Linked DNA regions of Homo sapiens: region 1 is linked to region 2. Evidence: fine-mapped expression QTL. A gene starts in region 2. The other region holds a variant in brackets. All regions are shown on one strand. Distances are from middle to middle.

Evidence for each region. PIP is the estimated chance that this variant, and not a neighbour inherited with it, causes the effect.
Region 1: its variant is fine-mapped to the expression of STX7 in whole blood (INTERVAL, PIP 0.99).

Annotation. Positions count from the first base shown.
Region 1 is chr6:132,455,306-132,460,646 of GRCh38, reverse strand. STX7 (syntaxin 7) reads left to right here. Exons shown (of 10, transcript NM_003569.3): 10 at 1-5,341. Among named protein-coding and RNA genes, the nearest start is that of STX7, 55 kb to the left of the region's middle. The variant A/G (reference allele first, on the strand shown) is at 2,743.
Region 2 is chr6:132,510,071-132,515,461 of GRCh38, reverse strand. It overlaps STX7 (syntaxin 7), which reads left to right and starts at 2,346. Exons shown (of 10, transcript NM_003569.3): 1 at 2,346-2,455. RefSeq lists enhancers at 2,040-2,239, 2,597-3,098 and a silencer at 2,390-2,879.

The DNA.
Region 1 (5,341 bases), 55 kb after region 2:
CATACTTTGTTATTTTTATTGGGGGGGTTGGGGTGGTTCCTTTGGATTAAATCTGATATTTTCTAATACTGAAAGATTTTCTAAATGTCACTGCTGACATAACTCCCTTGGTCTTCAATTTAATAGTTGTTAAGTTTTTGCCCACATTGCATATGCCTTTCATTTATAATTTATTTACCCTGCTTGACTTAGTTTTGGGAATTCGTAAATTTAAAGGTGTGTGTATTCTGTTTGCATCTCCCTGTCACTGTGACACACCTAGATGTGTGTTACTTCAATTAAAATTCTCAAATTTAATTTTGATTTGCTTCAGCAGGGAAAATATTCTCAATAATGTAAAATAATTAAGGTCTATACATGGGTTGTATTTTTCTGGTTCACAACAGCACAAAGTGTCTTTCATTTTTTTGTTGGTTTTCTTTTAAGATCTTTTTTACCCTGAAGTCGGTGAATACTTTTCTAGTTTATTTGATACTCTTTCTGTGTATATATTAAGCTTTTGCTGTAGATTGCCTAGTAAAATTACTAAGGATAGGTTGTTTTTACATATGGTCTATTTAAGTCTGATGTTTACGGGGGAAAGTGTAGTTACTAAAAATGTTTAACATAATTTGGAAGAAGAGTATGAACAACCAATACCAATACCTATTGCGTTTGGATTCTTAAGACCCCAGTTTGTTATTCCACTAAACTAGTTATCTTAACCATATCATCTGGTTTTGTGGGCCATTATTTACCTTCCCTTATGTCTTATAGAATAATGGTTAATATTTTTAGGTCAAAATTACTTTTGGAAAGTAACTTTCCCACAATTAACTGTTTTTGAGCACCTGACAAAATTTAGTGTTTACCTTGCGTGCCATTTTGTGTCATCCTTCATTAAAAAAGCAATTGGAGGTTTGCCAGTTATCTCACTTCCCTTTTTAAATCAATGTTGTTTTAATGCACTAATCTGAATTCTGTAAAGAGGATTATCTTAGTTTATACTTTGTATTTTATAATGTTCTTGTATAGCAGCTCGGTACTGAAGGCGGTGTTTAACTTGGCAAGCTCTGAGACTTCAAATGGGAACAAATAGTAAGTAGCTAAGTAAACCACATCTTTGCAACCAAAATAAAGATGAGTTAAAAGGTATCTGGTTAGGCCTATTTCATGAGGACTATGCTCTGGTGGGACCACAGGTCACCTGATACTTAGTGCTGTGCTGCCTGAAACCTCAGCATGGAGACATCACCACATGCACTGTGGCCATTCAGCATCTTTCTGGAGCACCAGTTCACTCCAGGTTTTTATTTTAGGGTGTCATCGATTTTACCTACTTTGTCAGACTGGTAGAAGTTGCTTTGCATATCAGAAAAACTCCATTTTTTTCCACAAAAGGGATTACAGAAAACTCTTTTGTGAGTGAGTGATTGGAACTTAGAGACTCCTGTTGCCAGAATCAGACTGCCCTAGAACAGAATGGACAATGCAGGGAGGAGAATTCACACAAACAGCACCTGTTCTGAGGCCTGTGCCAGCCCACCAGGCCTGCTCAAATGTGGTCTTTACTTCAAGTGCACAGAGGCACATGAGGTTTCTGGTGATAAACCAGCGTCTTACCGCTGTTTTAAAGTCCCATCCCCATGGCTTTCACAATCAGTTCCGTTTTTTTTGCTGTACTTGATAAAATGTTTATTCTCATACAGGTCAAGTACATTTACTTCTATTCACAGTGAGTACCCAATAACAACAAAAGCGCTTACAAATTTGGGGGGCGTGATTTTAGTACCTTTATTTGAAGTGTAATCATTTTAAATTATTATTATTTTAACTGGGGCAGTTATCAGTGGTTTAAACAGGAACTTTAGTGGCTTCAATTTGTTTAAGAAACATATTAAGTTTGAGGGAAAAATTTCCCATGAAATATTTGGAACGTAAGAGTAGTATTGATTAGAGAAAATTAAATAAGAAACATAGTATGGTAGCCAAATTTTTTAAAAAATCTTGAACTTTTCTGTAGGTCAGTTTTAGAACTGCTGTGAAAAGTGAAGGTTGCCCTGTGGAGATTAAAATTAGAGTTGTTTTCATAACTGACAGCATGGTGAATCCATTTGAGTCAAAGTGAAGAATTTCCTCATCAAGTGACTATACATTTGTTTTTGTGTGCTCAAAAGAAATACTCAAACACAGACTGATATTAACCAGCCAGGTAAATTGAACGACAATGTGGCATTAGGTATTTGGCTGTTTATTGGTCGTTAAATACTATGGTTTTGCAATATGATTGATGGTAAAAGAGTGATGTCATATTGATACTAGAGTAGCTTGTTTTTTTAGTAGGTGTGGGACCATCTCTTTTACAAGTGCAACTCAGTCTAGGACAGCCATGGATGCAGTGTCTGGAGTTGGACCCTCTGAGCCCGCTGGCTGCCCCAGTAGCATCTGCATTGGTGACCAAGGACACTGCACTTTGAAGAGGTCGCCACTGGGTTATTTAGTGTCTTCACTGCTTTTGTTAAAAATTGTAAAATTTTGTACACAAAAAGTTGTGTTTTTGAATATCAATTGTTTAGACACACCTACAATGATAAATAAGTGCCTTTAAAGGCCCCTCTTTCCATGAAATACATCTGTGGTTTAGCAAGGAAAGTACAAAATAGTTTATGTAGTTGGTATAATTTTTATTTGTGTCTTCATGTAGAAAAAATGAATGTCATAATAAAATATAAAACTTACGTAAAGAAAATAAAGTCATTGTCC[A/G]CCTTAATAGCTAAGGTCCACAAGGGTAACTTATGCAGCATTTATTTTTTTTGAAAGTCAAAATTGAATTTATTTCTTTCACATGGCTGGTTTGCTGCAATATGAAGTTTCAGAATGGGCTGAAGTAAGTTGATTGAGGGATTTGAGTTGAATGACATTTTCAAGTTCATTTAAATATGATAAAAATTCATTGGTGGTAAATAACATCTGTCTTTCCTGGAAAAAAAAAAGTTGTGTATTTTCATGATTCAGTTAAAACAAAAAATGAGCCTGTGAATCCCAGGCCTTTTTAGTCCTCCATAACATTTGAACAGTTTGACTTGTCAGCAAAGAAATACACTTATCAAATTTTAAACCAATGGGAGCCTGAAAGTGTTACAGTGTACTGCTTCTTTGACAAAATTCTGTTTAACAACTACCCTAACATAATTTATAAATCAATTAAGATAAAACCATTTTTTTCTGAGTATTTAGGAATTTGTGTCCTCAAAATACTGTGACATGAAAGATAGGAAAGAAATTACCTGGTTGCCAGACATGCACGATTATCTTTCCTCATTTCAGCTGGATTTTCCAAAGTCAGTAGATTGGATAAAGCAGCATCTCATTCACTGAGGTCACAAGATAGGTAGGAAACTTCTTTAATGTGAATTTTGCATATTTTAACAATTCAGTTAGAAAAACAGAAACCACTTGATGGATTATAAGTGTAAAGTGTTTTAACATAGGGAATTAGACATCAAAAGGGTGGGTGAGGAAGGTGTCTGCGGCCCCAAAGTGGGTGGATCTCAGGAGCTGGCCCAGGCACTGCTGTGACTCTTGAGAACATCCAGAAGGCTGTGCTGTTGGCGTGCAGCACTGACAGTGTGTCTCAGGGAGCTGTCCCCAGCTGTCAGCTGTTAATAGCTCCAAAGCCAGTGCCTTGCAAGAGATTTTGAAACTGCTGTGAAACTCATGTCCTCTGCCCGCCTACACTTCTGTCTGCAGTGGCCTCTGAGGAAAGATGGTCTCTCCTTTTCTCATGGTCAACTCTCAACTTAGAACCAGAGACAGAAGGAGTTTGTGGGAAGTGTGGTTTCTGGTCTACCTGCACTGCAGAGGACATTCTAGAAAGAGAAGTGAGTTGACAGTCTAGCATAATTGTGAAACAAACACTGAGATGTACAGTTCAAACCACGTGAAGTGGAAGCCTCAGAATTTTCCTCACTTTCATTAAAGATTCTTTGATGGAAAAATTTAGAAGCATTGGCTCTAGATGGTAAGCAAGTCATTTTTTTCCAACCAAAATAAAAAATACATATACTAAGCTTCTGGGGCCCCAGGACTTAACACAGTTTCCTTCCTTCCTTCCCTTCTTCCTTCCCTCCCGTAGTAGTTGCTTAATAAATACTTAATTTGGCACTTATTTGGGGCCGGCTTTTTGCCAGGCTACTACATGCCTGGGCATAGTGTTCTAAGAGTGAACCAAAAGAATAAGCTTCCTGCCCTCAGGGAGTTTATGTTTTGTTATTTGGCATATAAAAAGAACTTGGTGTGTTAAAAGAAGGGAAATAGCTGTGTGAAAGGAATGAGGCAAGGAAGAAAGGGAATGTCTAAATATAAATCTCCGTTTGGACCAGCCTCCTGTTTATCCAGTTTTCCTTACTAAGTAACTGAATTTCATTTTCTTTTCTTAATTGACAGACTACCAGAAAATTGCTAGTTTTCTAAAGAGAAACTACTGATTTGAGTGATGATCTGTGTGTAATGGCTCCAAAAAGGAGCCGTTCTCTTGGTGGCAGCAGTTGGATTCAGAGCTTGGGCATCCTGATCATCAGGACAGACATTTACAGGATATGTATAGAATTACTGCCCCAAATAGAGGGCAAAGCACTAGACAGAAGGGTGAGATCCAAGGGGAATTTGGAATCTATATTTCATCAGAATGCACTCAAAGCAAAAACAGTAAGTATGCTCCATATAAAGAAATGTTTCTTAAAATGTTTTTAATTTAACCCTACCCATCCCTTGGCAAATCTTTTTCTTTTAAATCAAATAGGAATAAAGAAGAAAATCTTCCTATTGGCCCATTTTCTCATTATTCAAATACCATATCAATACACCAATTTTAATTCTTTGTTTTTGTAATCATTTGGTTAACATGAATATTATGTAATATTTTTCTCCAAATAATCCTAATTTTAAATGCAGAAATAGAGCTAAATAACACACTAAATAGGTTTTTGTAGACACTGTAGCTTCTGGCAAGTTTTTAAGAGGTTGGTCACTTAATTGCTTAGAGTGGGATTCCCGTAGGTTTTGTGTAGTGATGGCATTTATGCTTAAAATGTAAGTGGTGGAAGGCAAAACCAGATTTCCTGTCCAGTCGTTACACGCACAACACCTCTACTTGTTGACGAGGGAGTTTTCTAGAACTGAATTGAATCTTTAAATAAACTTGAAAGGGCATTAATTCCCACTTTGGCCAACCCAAAGTACAAATTTTTAAGTGTTTACTGTAAGTATCGTTAGGCAGTAGTTACTAACTCCAACACCTAATAGCATTGGTAGAAAGCTTATAAATGCAGTTATTTAGCCTCGACTAAGATTTTTCTGATAC
Region 2 (5,391 bases):
TTGCAGTGGATCAGGATGTCAACCGTGAGGGACAGAGAGAAGAGGGCACATATGAACAACACTTAGGAGGTAAAATTAGAAACGAAAATACCAGTCATCAGGAGGTAAAATTAGAAACAAATATACCGGTCATCATGCTATAATGGCCCATGTAAGATTTCCACGGGATATCTGTTTATTACCTCCATGTTCAAAAGCTAGGGCAAAATCAATTCTGTGCTTGATATATGACTAGGCACTTGTGTGATCTTAAACAGAAAACAAGTAGACTGTAGAGAGACATGGAAGGTGCTTAACAATAAGGCACAACTGAACTAACTCTTGTTTATTAAGTATTAATTTAAGCTTCCTTTTAATCTAGCATAGATTTTTTAAACCAGTTGTGGTTTTCCCACTGTATTATAAATAAAAACAAACCTTCATAAGTCAACTTGTCCTTCTCACTTACCAATAAGTCCCTGTTTGCTCTATTTACCTTTATGCGTCTTTTACTTCTTTGGCTTTCCCAGAAGATCACATAGTGGTCATGTAAAAAATATTTTTAGTTCAGTAACTATTAAATGAACCAGCAATTATCTCCTTCTATTCCCTGGAATTGCTATCCCAGACACTGGAGATACAGCAGTGGACAGTTCTCCATCCTACATGAGAGATGTTACATAGGAGGTATTTATGGTATTTATATTAATAAGGACACCACAAGTGTGCAGATAACATTCCCCACTCAACAACTTCTGGTTTCCTTCAAAATCTCTCCAAGAAGGCCCAAATCTCGCAAATTACTATTTCTGAAAATCCAAATTACAAGCTTTCAGTCATAGGTAACTTCTGCACATGGAAATGATTTATTTTGGGAGATGTGACATTATCACTCATCAAATTAGGAGACTTTTAAAGCCCTACCACTTTCAAGACACCTGGCTGAATTTAACTTGGTAGCAGCCAGATTCACAGATGGAATACTGTGTCAGGAACTCTTAGTAATTCATTTATCTTAATACTTCTAAATTTTGCAAGTTTGTCTAGACTATAATTCTTTTTTTTCCCATTTGAATACCAAAGGATGAAATCTTATTCTAAGTTTTCAAAAGACCTGGAAGGAATCCACTCATAACATATTTTAAAACAAGGAATTGGAATGAGCCCAAGATGAGGGCTCAGACAGCTAAGTTTTGGGCCCAGCATAGTCAGTAACTATCAGGGTAACTTGAAGAGGCCACTTAATCTCAGGTTCTTCTGTAGTGCATTGTACCTTCCCTCCCCGGAGCCCAGAGTTCTATCAAAGGTAATATGAATGGGTATTTGGAAAGTGCACTAAACCTCACATGGATGTAAGATCCTTTCATGTGTTCCTTCAATGATTGAAATGTTTCTTCCTACGTTCACCAGCCACTTCCTAATTCTCAAGTACAATGCACTACTTTCAGTTCTTTATTTACTTGAACTTTGTGTAACAGGTGACATCATGGACAATTCCCTCCTTTTTTCCTTCATTCTCTAGTTTACCTTTTCCTGGTTTATTTCCTATCTTGTGGGTTACTCGTTTTCAGGGTTATTCTTTCTCTGTCCATCTCTCTTAAGCAGACAACATTCCACACTTAGTGTTGGTGAGTTCCAATCAGAATTCTATCCTGGGTTTTGTTTTTTTCCACCTAAGTGCGTCTGGACTTTTGATATCACCTATCCGGGTAATCATTTTAGAAAATAGTGTTGCCTTAATATAGGCAAAGGCTAAGCCAATCTATCTTCTAATTAATTTGGAGAGGGCTTTCTTTCATTTGTAGCAATTGATGCTTTTCATCTAACAATTACAATATATTTGCATATTTATCATTGGAACTGTCTCTGCTTGTTTTAAACCCTGTGAAAACTACGCCCTGCTTTTCAGGAATGCTTAGAATGACTTGTATGTACTAGGAAAACTTGTTTACAAGTGAGCACCCAGAGATGACTCTTCACTTATTCCTTCATTGTTCCTGCTAGGATTGTGTACTCGCCTTTGCATTTTTCGATAGAGCTGTCAACGCGATCTACTGCAGTTAAAGGTTAGCAAACAAGACAGGCAAGAGCTAATGGGGCGGGGTGAAGACCCGCGTGCAAGAAGGCTGGCTTCACCAGATAAAGAAGACAACTGTCCTCCATTCTGTCCTTTTTTGCACGCAGGCTAAGAGGCGTTCACCATCTCTACGTCAGGCTTCAAAGAACAGCTCCCTTGCAATTTTGCTGATACCCCCATTCCTTAGCTTGGAACCGGAGGGGCGGTGAGGGCCGCTGTCACTCAGCCCCGCGGGCCAATAGAAAAGGGGTGAACCCCGCCTTCTTCCTGAGTTGTGCTGCGGGCATGCGCACTGGGCGTCCCCACGCCACCGCCCATCAGCTGAGAATTGCAGCTGAGGGCTCCGGGGTAGGTGGGTGACGGCGGTCGGAGGTGTAGGAGGGAGCCGTGGAGGTCCAGGTAAGAGGACCCTGGGGAGGGGGCTCCCTGGCCGGGCGACAGGGAGGCGCGGTGCCCCTGCGGCTGCTGCGCCTTCTTGTTTGTGCGCGTGGTCAGGTGGCCGCCGCCCTGCGCTCTGCAGCAGGCACTCGGGAGGCTAGGAAGGGCGGGACTGCCCCAGCTCCCGGAGCGCCTGCGGCTCCCCACGCCCCCCGGCCGGGTGCAAGGGCGCGGCGCGTTCCGCATTCCGGGTGCGCGCGGCTGTGGTCAGGTGGGCCTACCCAGCCACGCACCCGCCGCGGTCCCCTGGGCAGAGCTCCGGAGGCGCACGGCTGGCGGAGCGCACCCCGGGGAGGGCGCCAGAGCCGGCTGGGGCCCAGCTCAGGAATCCAGACACGACCAAATGACCTCTTCCTCTTTTCAACTCACGGATTGAAAAACACACTAAACTTCCCGAATATAGAGGAACTGAAAAATGTATGGCTGTAGCAGGCGAACCGTGTATGTTTATTTATTCAGAGGATCGTAGTATTGTTTTTTTAATTTGGCTTGATGACTTTAACATACTTTGACATTCTTTGAGTATACACCTTTAATTAATTTACATAAAAACCTTTAAACGTACATAAAATATTTCTAGTATTTCCTCCACCTTGTTTTCTAGTTACTTTCTTTAAATTCAGACAAAGAAAAAAAGTTGCATTTCTGATCAAATGCTGTGTGTTTTTTCCCACAAATTTCTTACATTTGTTTGGCTCTTATCTGTATACGTTAATTTTTGTTTACCTCAGATCGTTGTATTCTGACTATAATTATATATAATATATAAAACTTGCCCAGAATCTGGAAGAAAAGAAAGTAATTATGAAATGCTGTGCTATTTAATAATGTTGGAAGTGGACATTTCTTCTGCAGGTTCTCTGAGCACACCTGGGCAGAGGCTGATAACGGTGTTAAACTGTGTTTTGTGTTGTGGACAGGCCTTATAGGCTACTTTGAGAAGTTGGCCTCAGACTCGTGACTAGTTAAGAATTATGCTCTTAACTTCACAGTTTCTGTAGAGGTTAATATGATACCATATTAACTGATTAACATCATAATTTTTCCTCAGATATGTTACTTATGTTGCTCTTGATAACAAAATCAATCCTTATTTTGGTTATGACCCCAAACTTTAAGTGCTGATGATTGAAAAGTAAATTATAGAAAATATTCACAGTAAGTCTGAGTGAAGTTTGCTGTGATTCCATTTAATTTGCAAGTTTCATGTGTGAAAGTATGAAAAAAACAATCCTCGGTATTGTGAACTAAAACCAAGTAGTACAAAAGGTCAGTGATGAAAGAGCTAAGGCCAAAGAATACAGTTAATGTAGTTTTTGCAGAGGATACTTATGTAGACAGAGCACCCTCACATTCCTTGAGCATTTACTATGCACCAGGCACTGTAGATTACACAGGATGACAAGGTCATCTCTCTCCTGTTTATATTCCAGAAGTAGCTCCTGTTTGTATTCCAGAGGTGTAGGGATAAATAATAAACAGTGATTAATTCGACTTTTGAGTATTGTGAAGCAGTAAGTTAGATTGACAAAGAGTGACCAGTGGTGAGTTCTCACTTTCATATCAGAGTGGTCACAAAGGTTTCTCTAGCATGTGATGAGGCCTTGCTGGGGAGAAGGAGCCAGTCACGTGGAGATCATGGGAAGAGCCTTCTAGAAATAGGAAATGGCACCCAGCAAAGGCCCAAGGCAGCAAGAAGCCTGGGACCTTCGGTATCTGAAAGAAGGCACTGGAATTTTATGTTTTGGAAATGGTAATATTTACCCTCACGCTGGGTGTGTGTTCTTAGGAGGTGGGTACATTCATTCATTCTACAAATGTTTGTTAAGCACTTGTGATGTAGCCAGGCAGTGAGAATAGTGCAGTCCACAAAACAGACAAAAAAATGCTCACCCCCCACCCCTCAGAACTTACTTGGGGTAGAGGGTATAGAGAAGTCCAGTTGTTTATGCTGATGCTAATGATTAAGAAAGTGAAATTGACTACTTCTTTGCCCAGGGTAGATTTATAGAGCATGAGATATATGCTAAATGGAAATCTTAAGGATTCTACAGTATATCGGATTTTAACTGGGAGTAGTGTTTGACACTTCAAGATTAAATTTTAACATTCCTTTTGTTCATTCCTTTGTGTTCTTTAGAAGCCGTCTTGAGAAGACTCTCATCTGAGTGTTGCACTTTGATTCTCCCTTCCTGTTTTTCTCTTTATAGTGTTTGTATATCTTCATAGAAAGATGATTATTGCAATGTGGAGATTAGCACTGTGCAATAGATCTTTCTGTGATAATGGAAGTGGTCTATGAATGAGCTGTCCAAGCTGCTGGCCACTAGCCACACAGAATTTTTGAACATTTGAAAGGTGTCTAGTGTGACTGAGGAACTGATTTTTTTCATTTAACTTAATTTTAATTAATTTTAATTTTTTAAAAACGAGAGCTACAATGTAATTTAAGTGATACACAATATAAAATGGTGTAAATTGTCACATGAAAAAATGAAATGTAGAGTAAAAGTGTAGTTTCTTACTGCAATCAGTTATCTTGTTAGCAGCTTAAAATAACCTGTAATAAGATTTTTTTGCTTTTATTATTTTAATCGACAGATAATGATTTACATATTTGTGGATACATGTGATACATCAGTAGATGTGTACAATGTGTAATGATCAAATCAGGGTAATTAGCATATCCATTACCTCAAACATTTAACATTTCTTTGTGTTAAGAGCATTCACAATTCATTCTTTCTTCTAAGTATTTGAAAATATGCAATAAATTGTAATTAATTGTAGTCACCTTTTAGGGGTATAGAACACTAGACTTCATTCCTCCTACCTAGCTGTATTTTGGTGTTAGTTAACCAACCTTTGGCTATCCCCTTCCCGCCATCCTTCTCTGC